Linked DNA regions of Homo sapiens. The protein of the gene in region 1 interacts with the protein of each later gene in a pairwise test. Each region holds a gene or a part of one and is shown on either strand. Other genes may lie near its edges.

The links.
Region 2: the proteins of GRSF1 (region 1) and CNRIP1 interact in a two-hybrid assay, tested with the Homo sapiens proteins (one study listed by BioGRID).
Region 3: the proteins of GRSF1 (region 1) and ERO1A interact in a two-hybrid assay, tested with the Homo sapiens proteins (one study listed by BioGRID).

What each region holds. Positions count from the first base shown.
Region 1 is NC_000004.12:70,815,852-70,822,890, forward strand, and holds part of GRSF1 (G-rich sequence factor 1), read right to left. Parts: intron 5,011-7,039; 3' UTR 1-5,010. UniProt on the Homo sapiens protein: Regulator of post-transcriptional mitochondrial gene expression, required for assembly of the mitochondrial ribosome and for recruitment of mRNA and lncRNA. Binds RNAs containing the 14 base G-rich element.
Region 2 is NC_000002.12:68,292,501-68,295,979, reverse strand, and holds the end of CNRIP1 (CB1 cannabinoid receptor-interacting protein 1), read left to right. Parts: intron 1-1,953; coding exon 1,954-2,118; 3' UTR 2,119-2,970; downstream 2,971-3,479.
Region 3 is NC_000014.9:52,685,550-52,692,588, reverse strand, and holds part of ERO1A (ERO1-like protein alpha isoform 2 precursor), read left to right. Parts: intron 1-7,039. UniProt on the Homo sapiens protein: Oxidoreductase involved in disulfide bond formation in the endoplasmic reticulum. Efficiently reoxidizes P4HB/PDI, the enzyme catalyzing protein disulfide formation, in order to allow P4HB to sustain additional rounds of disulfide formation.

The DNA of each region.
Region 1 (7,039 bases):
GTTGTTCACCTAACAGGTGAAACGTTAAAATGTGGCATTCATACATAGAACACTGCTCAGCCATAAAAAGGAACAAAGCTTAAACACACTGATGAACATACAAACATGCTGAGTAAAAGGAACTTACAGAATACATACTGCATAAGTGAGTCCGTTATATGAAGTTCTAGAATAGGCAAAATTAATCTACAGTGAACAAAATCCTAACAGTAGCTGACTGCCAGGGGAGGGAAGAAGGGACAGGAGAGAGAGGTGCAGGAATTGACTAGGTGAAAAAATTCAGATGTAATACAGATGTTCCAGACATAGGGGTTTGAGTTACATGCTTTTACATCAAAACTCATCAAATGAGTCTGGGTATGGTGGCTCACACCTGTAATCCCAGCTACTCGGGAGGCTGAGGCAGGAGACTCCCTTGAACCCAGGAGGTGGAGGTTGCAGTGAGCCAAGACCAGGCCACTGCACTCTAGCCTGGGCGATACAAGACTCCATCTCAAAAAAAAAAAAAAAAAAAGAAAAAACCTCATCAAATGATACACTTAACATTTATTCACCTTACTGCAAATCTCCCTCAAAAAAACTCCAATGACGGCTGGGTGTGGTGGCTGATGCCTGTAATCCCAGCACTTTGGGAGGCCGAGGCAGGCAAATGACTGGAGGCCAGGAGTTCCAGACCAGCCTGGCCAACATGATGAAACCCCATCTCTACTAAAAATACAAAAATTAGTCAGGCGTGGTGGTGCACATCTGTAATCCCAGCTACTCGGGAATCTGAGGCATGAGAATTGCTTGAAACTGGGAGGTGGAGGCTGTAATGAGCTGGGATCACGTCACTATAACTCCAGCCTGGGTGACAGAGCGACTGTCTCAAACACAAAAAACAAAAACAAAAACAAATTCCCATGACATGTATGCTGAAAGGATTAAAAGTGAAAAATGTCTACAACTTACTTGGACATGCATATAGAAAAAAAGATGAGACTGCAGGAGGCAGGCTATGGGATAAAGCATGGCAAAATGCTGCTTGTACAATCTAAGGGATGGGTATTGGCATCACCAAGATTTTATATACTGACAGAAAATGATCTTTAGGGTGTTTAGGTGGGAGAAAAGCCAAAATACAAAATAGCATGTACAGTATAATTTATATTTTTAAAAGAAATGACAACACCCACTAACACTTGCTTATAAATAAAGTAAAAGTCACTGCAAGCTTACACTAGAAACTGATAACAGGGCTGTGCGAGAATAGAAACTAAACAGCTGAATTACAGGAGGGGAAGGAGAATCTTCACTACCGTTTGTATCTCTTCAAGTTTATTTCCTTCAAAAAATAAAATATAAACAACTTTAAAATGAGCCTGCTTTTTTTTTTTCTGAGACAGGGTCTCACTCTGTCACTCAGGCTGGAGTGCAGCAACAGTCATGGCTCACTGCAGGCTTGACTTCCCAGGCTCAAGCAGTCCTCCCACTTCAGCCTCACAAAGTGCGGGGATTACAGATGTCAGCCACCACACCTAGCCTATTCTTGATTTTCATATAATCAGGCTTAAGACAGATTAAACCTTCCTTCCTATACTTCCTTTCTAAAAATAAGAAAACCACTAGAACTAAAATTCTGGACAGAAAATCCAGACACCTCACCAATGATGATATAAGGATGGCAGATTAAGTATATGAAAAGGTGCTCCACATCACTATGGGATTGGGAATTAAAACGATGAGACCACTATTCACCCATTAGCTAAAATGCAAGAGTGACATCACCAAATACTAATGAGGGTGAGGAGCTACAGGAACTCTTATTCATTGTCAATGGGAATTCAAAATAGTCATGTTGGAACAGTTTGGCAGTTTCTTCCAAAACTAAACATACTCTTAACTTACAATCCAGCAACCTGGTTCCTTGGTATTTACCCAAAGGAGCTGAAAACGAGTCTACACAAAAACCTGCACATAAATGTTTATAGCAGCTTTATTCCCTTCCTACAAACTTCAGATTCTCTTCTAATTTGCTGAACTTGGGGAGTGGGAGGGTAATGTATTTCTAATGCGATAGCGCAATTTGGATTGGAACTCTACTGCTGACATACATACCATTCTCCTCTATACTATAGGTCCTACCAATTCAATGTGAGTGTCTTCCGATAATTTAGGGGAAACTCTCAGAACAATGGAGTTTTTTGTATTTTGGTTTTTTTGATTTTGACAGAGTCTCACTCTGTTGCCCAGGCTGGAGTGCAATGGTGTGATCTTGGCTCGCTACAACCTCTGCCTCCCAGGTTCAAGCGATTCTCCTGCCTTGGCCTCCCAAGTAACTGGGATTACAGGCGTGTGCCACACCTGGCTAATTTTTGCATTTTCAGTAGAGCCGGAGTTTCACTAAGTTGGCCAGGCTAATCTTGAACTCCTGACCTCAAGTGACCCACCATGGAGGGTTTTAAATTCTGAAACAAACAGGATGTAACCCCAAAAAATAACTTTCCAAATGAGAACTGAGTAAGGGCTGTTCAGGGCAGAGGACATTAACAAGGCATGTTGATTAATAAGCAGATTCATGGCACACAATGTTGCCTTCAAACTGGGTTCCTTATGCTTCCCCCTTCAAGTAACACAGAAGTAGTGAGAATTTGGAGCCTTCCTCCCAGGGAAGATTCGGTCCCCCTTCCCACATGACAGAAGCTTAAGTTACCCACGCATAAAGGGACACATACTCTATTTCTGCTTCATTGCCTGGTGTCAATATTTAGATGAGACCACAATATTCAGATGAGACCACAATATTCAGCAATCAGCTCCCTGGTATTTACATACTGCTTCTCAGAGTTCTCCCTTGCACTCCGTAAGCAGCAGCTAGGCTAAAGCAGGATATGAGCACCCTGACCATATGCCCCACTCCCACTATTCTTCCTGATGGCTTTACCACAAAGGAAGTTATAGACACAAGGAACCCAAACAGAAGGAAATTCACCATCACTGCTTCCTTCAATAGCAAAGAGTGATGCAAAACAGTCTTCTCAAATGTGGGGAGACGGTACCGTCTTCCACTTGCATGGAAATAAGATTACTTTTACTGTATTATGTGCTTCTCTTCCTTTCCCATAACTACATCCACCTTAGCAATCACTTACGTACTAGCCTAGATCATGAACAAAAACAAAAGGGAGCATTCAAATACATAAAATGATTTCCCAATAATGGCCACATTTTGTACAGAAAACTCAGCCTGTAGCGTGCCAAGAAGATATATCCTTTCAACCTTACCCATCCATCATATAGCATTTTAATGCTTTGCTTGCATTCTTTTTCCAGAGATGTGCAAATAAAACTCATTAGCTTAAATCAATTGCAGATGAATTCCTCACAGTAGGCCCCACAGATCTTTTCCACAGCAAATCAGATACCAAATGTGAAAGAGCAACAAAGATCACATTCTAATAGTTCGTACAACTACAGATACCAGTTCTCATAGCTTGGCATATTCAACCATATATGAAAACGCATTTCCATCTAGGCAGTACTACTGATGATGTTAAGCTGGTTAAGTCATGTTCACAGGATTTTAGAGAACACACACACGAAAATTAACCCTTACTACTTATATTAATATAGCAGGACTTGAGGTAATAATATATTCAGTTGACTCACAGACTCCAATAATAAATACTCTTAGGTAATCTTCAGCCTGAAACAAGTCTTCATTTATTGACTACAGTACAGTGATTTCGCATCTTAGCTGGTAATCAAAGATGGTTATGTATTAAGTAAGAGAAGACATAGTCTCTCTTCCAGGTATCACCTGTCAGAAACCTGGGCAAATTTAATTTTAAGAACTAGAACTGCATCTCCTGGTGGCAGTCGTCACCCTGAGAACAGGAACAAGGCAAAGAAAGCATACAGGATTTTGATTCTCCTACACAGGTGCACATAAAGTTAGTTTATTAATGACTATATTTTGAAGCCAGCCATTTTGTCCAATATTTAAATAACAAGCTGTTTAATATTAAAGCAGAAAGTACTGCCACATTGTGACAGAAGTACAGCTTTATCCATAAACCCTTCACACAATTATACATTAAATGCTATTTTTATTTAAGCAAGGCACCCCTACTTGTTCTAAAATATGGGATGTACTACTCCATTTAAAAAGCAAATGAGGAGACTGATTTTTTTCCTATCTAGAGCTGGTTTAAATTCAAGTGAAGCCATTAATTTTCTTACCAGTCTGGACTGTTCTGACATGTCACTTCACAGTTTTGAGACTAACAAACACCCTTAGGTCTACCCCAAACCAAAAAAAGCCAGGGAGGGACAGTTTAGACAACTTTTAAGTTAAGACTAGAATGCCCCCTTAAGTAGATAGGCACCACCGTTATACGCCTTTAGCACAAGGCTTAGAAAGGCAAAACATTTCTAAAGACATAAAACCGCCAAATTGTCATTTACACTAAGCTGTGGTATTTTTTGTTTTGATTTTTAAAAATTCCTATCTCTAAGTAATCAAATACAGCAAAATTTAAAACTATTCTGCCAAACCATACCAGTTCAAAGGTCTGAAACCGTTCTTTGCTTTGGTGAATGTTTGGTTAAAATAAATCACTGTTTCACTCCATGAGAAGTTTTACATCAGAGCACTCAATTCACAGGCAAAAAAAAAAAGTTACTTTTTAAATGAAACCGTTTAAAGAACACTGCTGAATAAAAATATGTGGTCTTTACAATGAGTAACATATCATCTATGAAAACAAACCATTTAATCATATAAAACAAAGACCATATTTTTAAATCAGATCCTGGACAGTTTAAACAAAAATTTTAATTTGTGGTTTATTTCATAATCCCAAACTGGATCTTTCATTTCTTCTTCTAAACAGTCCACTATGAAACTTTTCTTAGAAGCAATTAACCCAAAACACCAAAATCATTTCCCTAGCAGTTGCTGCTAATAAACTGGAACTGTATATCCCAAGTCCAAGAAAGATGTGCAAATGAAATGCTTCTTGCTTCACCCTAAAAATAAAACAAAAAATATTGTACATTTACTCAAGATGAAAAAGGATGGCACACATTCCCATACCATTTAAAATTGCAAATTCAAATTTTTCTCCTTTCTAATTTAGTGCAAGCTATCTGATAAACCGAGTTAAAGTGAGGAAAACTAGTCAGGCATTAGTGTTTACAGGCTGGTACAAAAAACTGAGTTTCAGAATATATTTTAAATAGATTTTAGCTATTATAAATATTTAACACCAAAGAATTGTGGGACTTCATATCCAAAAATAGCAACAGAAGAGGCCAGGCACGGTGGCTCACGCCTGTAATCCCAGCACTTTGGGAGGTTGAGGCGGGCAGATCAGCTGAGGTCAGGAGTTCGAGACCAACCCGGCCAACATAAAGAAACCCCGTCTCCACAAAAATAAAAAATTAGCCGGGTGTGGTGGCGCATGCCTGTAATCCCAGCTACTGGGGAGGCTGAGGCAGGAGAATCACTTGAACCCAGGAGGCAGAGGTTGCAGTGAGCTGAGACTGTGCCATTGCACTCCAACCTGGGCAACGAGAGAAACTCCGTCTCAAAAAATAAATAAATAAAAATAAAATACAAAACTTAGCCGGGCATGGTGGCATACGCCTGTAGCCCCAGCTACTTCATAGACTGAGGCAGGAGAATCGCTTGAACCCGGGGGGCGGAGGTTGCAGTAAGCGGAGATCACACCACTGCACTCCAGCCTGGGCGACAGAGAGAGACTCCGTCTCCCAAAAAAAAAAAAAAAGCAATAGAATAGGATATAGTAATAGAATGAATGTCCGTGTTTTTTTGTTCCTTTTTTTTTTTTTTTTTTGAGACAGAGTTTCGTTCTGTCATCCAGGCTGGTGGAGTGCAGTGGCACCATCTCAGTCACTGCAACCTCCGCCTCCCAGATTCATGTGATTCTCCTGCCTCAGCCTTCCCAGTAGCTGGAACTACAGACATGCACCACCACACCCAGCTAATTTTTGTATTTTTAGGAGAGACAGGGTTTCGCCATTTTGGCCAGGCTGGTCTCAAACTCCTGACCTCAGGTGATCTGCCTGCCTCAGCCTCCTGAAGTAATGGGATTACTGGAGTAACCCACCATGCCTGGCCCCATGTGTTTTCAAGAAATCATTACAGGTAAGTGTCTCAAAAGAATGAGCCATTACCTGTAGAAAAGTGACTGCAATACAACAGTAATACTTACAATACCTTATGGGAAAAAAAAAAGACACCATATATTTAATCGAGGCAAGGAACATCAAGATGTATTAAGCAAATCTCACGGGTAGGTTAACACTATAAAATTATGTACTTCCTAAGGCAAAAAAAAAATGCCATTTTAGGAAAAGGAAACAGTGGCACATTAACTGTGTTTATGGATGATACACTCTGGTTTCACATGGTATCCTTTTAAAAATACCTTAAAACAGAAAATGGCTGGGCGTGGTGGCTCACACCTGTAATCCCAGCACTTTGGGAGGCTGAGGCTAGCGGATCACTGGATGTCGGGAGTTTGAGACCAGCCTGGCCAACATGGTGAAACCCCGTCTCTACTAAATATACAAAAATTAGCTGGATGTGGTAGAGAATGCCTGTAATCCTAGCTACTTGGGAGGCTGAGGCAGAAGAATCACTTGAACCCGGGAGGCAGGGGTTGCAGTGAGCTGAGATTGTGCCACTGCACTTCACCCTGGGCAAAAAGAGTGAGATTTCATATCAAAAAAAAAAAAAAAAAAAAAACAAAAGTAACCTGAGAAAATGGAAAACGTGTTTAAATTTAAGTGGGGAAAAAAAGCTAATGCAAGTCACATATCCAGTCTATTACGATTTATAGCTACTAAAGGTGGCTATTTTTTGGCAAACAGCATGATGTTGGAAATTATGCATAAAAATTCTATATGGAGATAATGCTCAAAGCTACCATATAAATCATAAGGAATTATGGCTGGGAGCAGTGGCTCACTCCTGTAATCCCAGCACTTTGGGAAGCCAAGGCAGGTAAATCACTTGAGGCCAGGAGTTAGT
Region 2 (3,479 bases), on another chromosome or scaffold:
AATTCCCATTAGCAGCATTTAGAATACCTGTTTTCTTATAGCTCACTAAAAATGGATATTTCTATTTTTCTTAACTTTGAGGTATAGTTTACATGTAATAAATGGACTCATCTTAAGCATACAGTTCAATTAGTTTTGACCAACATATATGTACAGCCATGTAACCACCATCCCAATCAAGATACAGAATGCTTCCATCACCCCTAAAAAGTTCCCTCTTGCACATTTGCATCAGTTCCCCTTCTCACCCTAGGCTCTAGATAACCACAGATGTTTCCTGTCAGTGTAGGTTACATTCTGTCACTATATAGATGGATTCATACAGCATGTACTTTGGGGGCCTAGATTATTTTGCTTAGCATGTCTTTGAGATCCATCCCTGTTGCTGCTTGAATCAGCATGTCTTCCTTTATTGTTCAGCAAAAGGCCATTTTATAAATATACCAAAACTTGCTTATCAACATGTGAATAAACATTTGGGTCAATTCCAACCTGGGGCTATTGTGAATAAAGCTGCTGTATGCTTATATAGGTCTTTAAGCCATGACTCTCTAAAAAGAGGTAATCCACTTTCATACCTGGGAGGTCTGTGGACTCTAGGTATATCATCCACTATTTCAAATCAAGCAAATTTCCCAGAGGAAAGCCTAGATCTTGTTTTGGGATCAAATTAGCAGGATGAGGCAATGGTGCAAGATATAATTTTGAGAGCATCTTGGAAAGCTATCTGGAAAGCACCTGATCACCCTCCTCCTGTATCAGCAAGAAGCATAAGACTCCTAATGCTCACTGCCTTCCTCTGTCCACGTCTTCTGGCTCCAGACAAGTCTAAGAGTCCTGCCAAGTCAGTCCCTGTCCCCTCCCATGACAGGGGAGGGTCAGAGGAGAAAATAACGACAGGCATCATGCAGTTTAATGCCAGATCCCCTAAATAGCTCCAGAAGGCAGTAGCAGGGTCAGGCTACCCCACAGGCCACTTGAGCATCTGCCCAGTGGCCTCCAGGGTATTCCAGGTACTCTTCTCAGCTGCAAGAGAAATGTGTACTTTATACCTCAGGAGAGTTCTGTGCAGTGATTTACAGGGCCTACCTTCTGGAAGTAGAATGCTAACTTCTTAAGAGCAACAATCCTGCCTTATACGAATTTTTATACATGCAAGGTACATAGCAGATACTCAAATATGGTTCTGGGTAATGTATAATCTAAGCCCAAGATGTAGGCATGGACTCCTGACTTATAAGTATTCAATGTTTAATAGTTAAAATATGGCCTTTAACACTTCCAATGAAATATTTTCAGTTATCACTTTGAAATATTTTTCTTTGGAATTGAAACTAATGATGGAAATTTTATGTAGATGTATTGTAGACAGGTTGTTTTGTACCATTGTATTTTGAGAAAAGCCAGTAAACTTTATTCCTTCTCTTCCCTTCGCCATTCCCCTTCTGTAGCAGGGACCATTTGGGGGATGAACATGGGGGTTTGTTTTAGAGACAGAATCTTGCTTTGTTGTTCAGGCTATTCTGGAACCCCTGGCTTCAAGCTAGCATCCTGCCTCAGCCTGGGATTACAGGGGTGAACCACTGCACCTGGCCAGCAGGGGCCATTTTAGAGTAAGCTTTAAAATTCTAAGTTTTCAAAAAATTAAACTTGAAAAACAAGATAAACTTTGCAGTTATTTTTATTAAAAGCAATATGATAGCGAGTGGCACGTTTGCAATGGGAATCAGATTTTATAGAGAAGAATGGTTTACAGACAGCTTTTTAGGAAAATATCTCCCATCATAAAGGAGGGAGCTAGACCACTAAAGGAAAGCCTTCCGAGCCTTGCAGACCAAGAGAATCTGGACTGGGTCTGCTTGATTATCCAGGAGCTACATCACTAATGTTAGCTCTCATCTATTGCTCGTGGCAGAATGAGGTTTTTTATCAGGCATGTTTCTCTTCCCTCAGTTCACAGACATTGGGACCTTCGAGACAGTGTGGCAAGTCAAGTTCTACAATTACCACAAGCGGGATCACTGCCAGTGGGGAAGCCCCTTCTCTGTCATTGAGTATGAATGCAAGCCCAACGAGACACGCAGTCTGATGTGGGTGAACAAGGAGTCCTTCCTCTGAAAGTGGCTCTTTCTGATGCTACTGGACAATCTTTTCAGAAATCTACTTTTAGATAAACCAGCGCAGGCCTTAAACAAGGCATGCCACACCATTGCTGTTCCCCATCTGGTACTAATGACCTACTAGCCCTGGTTATTTTGAAAGTGTAATTCCCCTCTGACACAATATCCCTCACATACAAGATGGTGATGTACCACTCCCGAGAATATTCCCATCTGTATTTTGTGCTGATGTTCCTGCATCCAGTTGTTCTCGGTCATACTTTTGACCACTTGTGACTGGAGTTCAGTGGCCCTGGCAGGCTTGTCCTGCTCTTGACCATTCCACTGACTAACTTTGGTGTTTTGTTTCCAAGTTAAGTGATTCCTCCTTTTTTTTGTTCAATGTTAAATTTAAAAATAACAATGTGTATGGGTCCTCCCATGTGTAATATGGTAACATGTAACTTGCAGTGTTTGCCAGCTTTCAAAGCAGGCTTTGTGAAAATGTAATACAAACAGCAGTGAATGGGACTCAAATGTTGTGCTTCCTATAAACAGCTCCGCTCTTTCAGGGAAGGATGGTAACAAACTAGAAGGACAAATATGTACGTATTTATAACGTATTAAAACTCTTTTAAGTAGCTTAAGGTATTGTGCAATGGCCTAGCCTAGTAGAAATGGGGGAAAAGCATTGCTGTGGACCATTGTTAAAGTGACAGGAGTTGTAGGGTTACCCCTTTGACAAGCTTCCATAGTCTTCAGACACGCACATTGATGGCATCCCTACAGTCTTCTTCACTTGAACTTTGTAAAACTGCATATGGACCTGTAATCAACTTTTGATATTTCTTAATAAAGGCGTTGAAAATCATGCCCTGACTTGCATTCTTAATTTGGGCAATAATTATCTAGCAGGTGAATCCCTGCTCTAGGCCAGCTTCACTCAGGCCTGTATGCTACAGGATGACGGGGATGTATCCGGAGTAGAATTAGCACACCTATTCATGAATCAAGCCTGACCTTTTAGCAGGATTGCTCCAGCCAAGTTTAACAGGGCTAGCACAGGCCCAGGTGCTTGGCGGGCAATCAAAAAATGCTTGTACCTATCTCGCTCCATTACTCTTTCTGTGGTGACCCCTCCCCAGTTGGTGAGCTATGTGACTCAGTAGCAGGAGAGCAATGGTGCTATAATAGTGTGTGTACATCATGGTTGAGGCCTCCTTGCCTACTTCCAGCACCTTGCACAAAGCCCATATACCATACAGTTTAAGGATAAATTCCATAAGAAGGAAGTGAACTTCCTCTTGAAAAGTAACATGCTATTTTCCAATAATGTAATATTTACTTGGGCAGCACAAATCCTATAGTATTGGAAAAAGT
Region 3 (7,039 bases), on another chromosome or scaffold:
AAAAACTAAATTTCCACCAGATGTTTGGAAATACAAGTTAAAATCTTCTCTGGTTCTGTTTACAATATCCAGTGAGCTGCACAGTCCCGTTGATTGTTTTGGTAATAGTTTTATCTTTTCTTCCTGTTGCCTGTCCCTCTTACCACATCTGCCTTGGGTTACCACATCCCCATCCATCATCACACTGCTGCATGGTGCCTGGCTTATAGTAGGGTTCAGTTCACAGAATGTCCGCTCTGATTTGAGCTAGAGCAGTGACCTTAGAAAGTCACTGAATTAAAATGTGTAGAGCTCTACAAGTAATCAGATTAAATTCATCAAGCATATGTTGAAACCTACTGTGAACAATTTTTGGGAGATCAAAAAATGAATTAAAGGTGTGACACTTCCAAGAAGTGAGCCTGGTGAATAATTGGTGCTCAACAAGTCCTAGGGAAATTATAAGATGCAAGCACTATGCCAACAGGAGTATATTTTAAAAATTATTCTGCTTAGCAAGCCATTTGCATGTTTTCTGGAACTGATCTTTCAGATTGGTTGATAGCTCCAACTGAGTCTTTGAATTTGGTCAGTTGCTACATATGCCTGTTAGTTGATATCAAATCCTGCTAAAATTATTTTCACTGTATGTTGTAAGTTCCTTTGATAATAGTGCTTAAGTGTTAGTTGCTCAAAATGAATGATTAATTGCCTTAGACTTGTAAATCTGTATATGTAACCTCATGTAAGAATTGTATATACAACCTAGGCCAGGCATGGTGGCTCACGATGTTTGTAAACTCTTACTTGCTCATGATGTTTTATCAATCTTAATATGGCTAGTGCTAGTAACACTCAGGATAGCTTATTTGAGCACAGTAAATCTCTGTCAGGCTAATGAAAGGGGAGAGTAGCTCAGAGTCCAAAATAAATACTCCAAAAATGGATCTTTTTTAGCTTGGAGCGCATTTAGTAGATTTAACCTGTCAAGTGTCTTGTTAGGTCAGTTGAAACAATGGTTTTAATTGTTAGCCTGGTGGCTGGGCCGTGGGAGAGACACTTGCTAATATGTTGAGTGGTGGATGGAAATAAGCCCAGGATTATAACTTAGTCAGAGGGATCTTTGAAACAGGTTACACTGGAGAGGTGTCCACTGACTCTATGTGTGTGCTGCATTCCAGGCTTTTCTGAATAAACTGTGTGGAAGAAATATTTTCCTGATGGTTGCCAGTCATTTGACAATTTAAAGTTTCGGCAAGACTAAGTCTTTAAAGCCAAAATGACCTGTAGCGTTCTAGGTCCTTAGGATGGTGCCTACTACCTGGTGTGGAATCTTTGGTATTTCCCTGCTTCCATTGACAGACTTGTCCCAGTGTACTTCTGTCAACAGATGAGTACTTTTTATGTTATTTTTTTATGGTGATAAAACACAGTAAAATTAAATACACCTGAAGTTCTTTGCCAAATAAAGCACACTTTGAGCACATTGATTTATTTATGTATTTCTCTCCACCTTTATTGACACATAAAAATTGCATATATTGGCTGGGTGTGGTGGCTTACGCCTGTAATTCCAACACTTTGGGAGGCTGAGGCACGTGGATCACCTGAGGTTGGGGGTTCGAGACCAGTCTGACCAACATGAAGAAACCCCATCTCTACTAAAAATACAAAATTAGCTGGGCGTGGTGGCACATGCCTGTAATCCCAGCTACTCAGGAGGCTGAGGCAGGAGAATTGCTTGAATCCGGGAGGCAGAGGTTGTGGTGAGGTGAGATCGCACCATCACACTCCAGCCTGGATGACAAGAGCAAAACTGCGTGTCAGAAGAAAAAAGAAATGCATATATTTAAGGTGTACCACATAATGTTTTGATATATAAAAGGTCCTTATCCTTTTTTTTTCTTTTGAGACAGAGTCTCACTTTGTCACTCAGGCTGGAGTGCAGTGGCGTGATCTTGGCTCACTGCAAACTCTGCCTCCTGGGTTCAAGTGATTCTCCTGCCTCAGCCTCCCAAGTAGCTGGGACTACAGGCACCCGCCACCTTGCCCTGTTGGCCAGGCTGATTTTGAACTCCTGACCTCAGGTGATCTGCCCTCCTTGGCCTCCCAAAGTGCTGGGATTATAGACATGAGCCACTGTGCCCGGCCCTTGCCCATTTTTTAATTGGGTTATTTGTTTTTTTGTTGTTGAGTTGTATGAGTTCCTTTTATATTTTGGATAATAACATCTTGTCAGACAGATGGTCTGCAAATATTTTCTCCCATTCTGTAGGTTGCCTTTTCATTTTGTTGCTTGTTTCTTTGTTACATAGAAACATTTTAGTTGCATGTAGTCCCACTTACTTATTTTTGCTTTTATTGCTGGTCTTCTTGGTGTCACATAAAAAATCATTGCCAAGACTAATGTCATGGAGCTTTTCTCCTATGTTTTTTTCTAGGAGTCTTGGTGTTTCAGGGCTAACATTTAAGTCTTTAATCAGCTTTTAGTTGACTTTTGTGTGTGTTGTAAGATAAAGATCCAATTTCATTTTTTTGCACATGGATATCCAGTTTTCCCACCACCATTTATTGACAAGACTGTGCTTTCCCATTGTTTGGTCTTGGTCAAAGATTAGTTGGCCAGACATGTGTGGGTTTATTTCTGGGCTTTCTATTGTTTTCCATTGGTCTATGTATGTGTTTCTATGCTGATACAACACTGTTGTGATGACTGTAGCTTTGTAATATAATTTGAAATTACAAAGTAGGCTGCTTCCAGGTTTGTTCTTGCAAAATTGCTGTAGCTACTTGGGGTCTTTTGCTGTTCCATCCAAATTTTACAATTTTTTTTTCTATTTTTGTGAAAAATGCCATTGGAGTTTTGATAGAAATTGCATTGAATCTGCAGAACACTTTGGGTGGTATGGGCTTTTTAACAATATTAATTCTCTCAATTTATGAACATGGGATATCTTTCCATTTATTTGTGTAATCTTCAGTTTTTTTAATCACTGCTTTATAGTTTTCAGCATACTGATCGTTCCTCTCCTTGTTAAATTTATTCCTAAGTAGTTTATTCTTTTTCATTCTATTCTAAATAGAATTGTTTTCTTAATTTTTTTTTGGATAGTTCATTGTTAGTGTATAGAAGCACAATTGATTTTTGTATGTTGATTTTGTATCTTGTAATTTTGCTGAATTTATTCTAATGGTTTTCTGGTGGAGTCTTTAGGATTTTCTATATATAAGATCATGTCATCTGCAAAAAGAGACAATTTTACGTATTTTTTATTTGGATACCTTTTATTTCTTTCACTTTCCTAATTCACACTTTGAGCATGTTTAAAAGGTATTTCATAAAAAATGTATATGAGGGCCGGGCGCAGTGGCTCATGCCTGTAATCCCAGCACTCTGGGAGGCTGAGGCGGGTGGATCACCTGAGGTCAGGAGTTTGAGACCAGCCTGACCAACATGGTGAAACCCTGTGTCTGCTAAAATACAAAATTAGCCGGGCATGGTGGCAGGCACCTGTAATCCCAGCTACTTGGGAGGCTGAGGCAGGAGAGTCTCTTGCACCTGGGAGGCAGAGGTTGCAGTGACCTGAGATTGCACCATTGCACTCCAGCCTGGGCAATAAGAATAAAACTCCGTCTCAAAAAAAAAGTATATGAGGAATATATTCTTATAGTGCTTTGTGTGAAAAAATAAAATGGTAATGTATAATAAGACTAGAATATATTGGTATACAAGAAAACTTTAGAAAGTGTTGTTTTGTCTTTCATTGCAAATTAAAGGATACCTCTGACATGAGAGTAGTGAACAAGCGGTACGTGGTAATTTTCCTTTATCCTGCCTTTTGCATTTGGTCAAATCAAACAGAGTCAACAGAGAAGGTAATTGAGGCTCCCTCCACAGCTAACTGTTGGTTATCTAGTTCTTTGTTCCATTGGGGCTACAGATGTCAAATTTTTGGGAAATTTTAGCTGCAAATTCGGCTGTATTTTTCTTATTCATTATGAAAATGCCATGTGCTGCTTTGGGAAGTAATACATGCTTCCCTTTCATTGGAAGCATTTAAGTAGAAGTAGGGTAATAATAATGATTAACATGTACTGACAATTTACTTTGTACTATTTATCTTGGTATCAACTCTTTGAGATGAGAACTATTACTATTTTCTATTAAGATGAGAAACCAAGGCCTAGAGAGGTTAAATAGCTGGGATAAAGTGAAAAACTAATGACTGGCAGAGATGGGATTCAAACCTAAGGAGGTCTGATGTTAGAACATACACGCTAACTATTGTTACACACTACCTGTTCCTTGAGGGATGTGAATGGAGGGATTTGCTGTTTTGCTTGGGAGATTGTAATAGAAAGCCTTCCAAGGCTTTCTAACTCTTAAAAGACTAGGACTTTTTTTTTTTCTTTTCTATTTTTTTGAGGCAAGGTCTTGCTCTGTCATTTAGGCTGGAGTACATTGGCATGATTATGGCTCACTGCAGCCTCAACCTCCCTGGCTCAAGCGATTCTCCCACCTTAGCCTCCTAAGTGGCTGGGACTACAGATGTGCACCCAATGCCTGGCTAGTTATTTTATTTTTTTGTAGAGATAGGGCCTCACTGTGTTGCCCAGGTTGGTGTCAAATTCCTGTTCTCAAGCAACCCTCCTGCCTTCACCTCTCAAAGTGCTGGAATTACACGTGTGAGCCACCATGCTGGAACAGAAGGCTGGAATTTTGAAGTGGTCCATGTTACTTGTCAGGCCTACCTTGGTCCTCCTATTTACTGTTCCTCAACTGGGGCCTTCTTATCTCTGCTTATTAGATTGGCCCTCTACCAAAAGCTATCATTACTTGAAGCCTAGAGCAGTTAGCCTCAAATGTTAGGATACTAACCTTTAAAACACATTAGCATTTAAAAAAATTTAGATTCCTGTGGTAGGTCAGAGTTCTGTTTTACTTTGGGATATAGCGTAGTAATTTTCCCCCTTACCCGCATTGTTCCATGTAGTAGTTATTTAGGCAGCCTTAGCACATCCTGAAACAACATCCAGTCCTCCCTGTTCCAGGTTGCCACCTGTCTTTGGTCTTAGTTGAGGTAATAGGATTTTGCTTTGTTTCCCGGATCCTGTTCTGTGTCTATTAACTGTATTTTACCTTAGCCCTTTCCTGAGGCTCTATTCTTTTTTGTTTTTTGAGACAGGGTCTCACTCCCATTGCCCAGGCTGGAGTGCAGTGGTGCAATCTCAGCTCACCACAGCTTCGACTTCCCAGGCTCAAGCCATCCTCCCACCTCAGCCTCCTAAGCAGCGGGGACTGCAGGCGTATGCCACCATGCCTGGCTAATTTTTTTTTGTAGTTTTAGTTGAGACAGGGTTTTACCATGTTGCTCAGGCTGATCTGGGACTCCCAGGCTCAAGAGACCTACCAACCTTGGCCTCCCAAAGTGCTGATTACAGGCATGAGCCTGAGATTCTATTCTAGTAACATGCTTTGTTCTCTGGTTTCTAGAACTGGTCCTGCCACCATCTTTGCCAGACTCTCTCCCAGGGATCAGGTTGGCAGGCTTATCTGAGTTGTCAGATGGCATGGATTTCCGAGAATCTTCTTGTCTTTCCTTTACTGAGCTGTCTTCATCCATTGAAACTCCTGCCACCCTTATACTCCCTTAGCAGCCCTGCTACCTGTGGTTGTAGTTAAGAATATCTCCTACTCCATATTTCAGGAAGGGGCAGGACATTTTTTTTTTTTTGAGATGGAGTCTCGCTCTGTCACCCAGGCTGGAGTGCAGTGGTGTGATCTTGGCTCACTGCAATCTCTGCCTCCCCGGTTCAAGCGATTCTCCGGCCTCAGCCTCCTGAGCAGCTGGGACTACAGACATGTGCCACCATGCCCAGCTAATTTTGAATTTTTAGTGGAGACAGGGTTTCACCATGTTGGCTAGGATGGTCTCAATCTCTTGACCTTGTGATCCGCCTGCCTCGGCCACCCAAAGTGCTGGGATTACAGGCGTGAGCCACTGTGCCCGGCCAAGAACATTTTAAAATCTACCAATCTACCATTTATCCTGCCTTCTTTCCCTTTGAGGTCTCTTGGCTATATGCCACCTCTGCTCTGGAGGATTTTTGCATTTCTTTCTGGTTTGGGGCTTCTTAGAGCTTCCTTTGTAATTAGGATAGAGATAGGAAGAATGATAGACACAAAAGGTGTTTACCTTTGCTGCTTGCTTTACTTGCTATGTGTGTTTCTGCCTCCTGTGCTTGTGTACTCTGGGGCACTGAGCACACCATAGGTGACATGGTGCTAGATATGTTTAATGAGACAGTATGGTGCTGGTCTCCAGTGATGAGTGACAATGGACAACATTCATTCATTCACCCACCTCTTCCACAAATAGTAATAATTTATTTGTGACAGAATCTCACTTTGTTGCCGAGGCTGGAGTGCAGTGCAGTGGTGTGATCTTGGTTCCCTGCAACCTCTGCGTTTTGGGTTCAAGCGATTCTCCTGCCTCAGGCGCCCAAGTAGCTGGGACAACAGGCATGGGCCACCATGCCCGGCTAATTTTTATGTTTCTGGTAGGGATGGGGCTTCACCATGTTGGTCAGGCTGGTCTTCAACTCCTGACCTCAAGTGATCCTCCCGCCTTGGCCTCCCAGGGTGCTGGGATTACAGGCCACAAATAATTATTGAGCATCTACTGTGTGCTTTCTGGAAGTATATGATTTTTCACTCAAGGATTTTATACTTTAGTGGGCAGGGGTAAAATAGATAAATTCACTGCTGTGAGGTACAGTAATACTTAGATAATAGTGTGTGGAGTGTCTTGGGAGCAGCTGGGAGAGGCATTTAACCCAGCGGGTGGTAAGGAGTACTGGAAGGACAGCTTCCTGAAAAAGGTGATACTGAGCTGAGGCTTGAAGATATATTTTAACCTTAAAAATGAATTCCTCAGGGGGAAGAATGGATGCCTTGAAACTTGCTCTCAAGTTTTTCATGTGTTTCTTTTTGTAACTTAATGTCTCTACTTTGCATATGTCCCTTTGGCCTTTGCAGTCTCTATGTCTGTCATTCTTT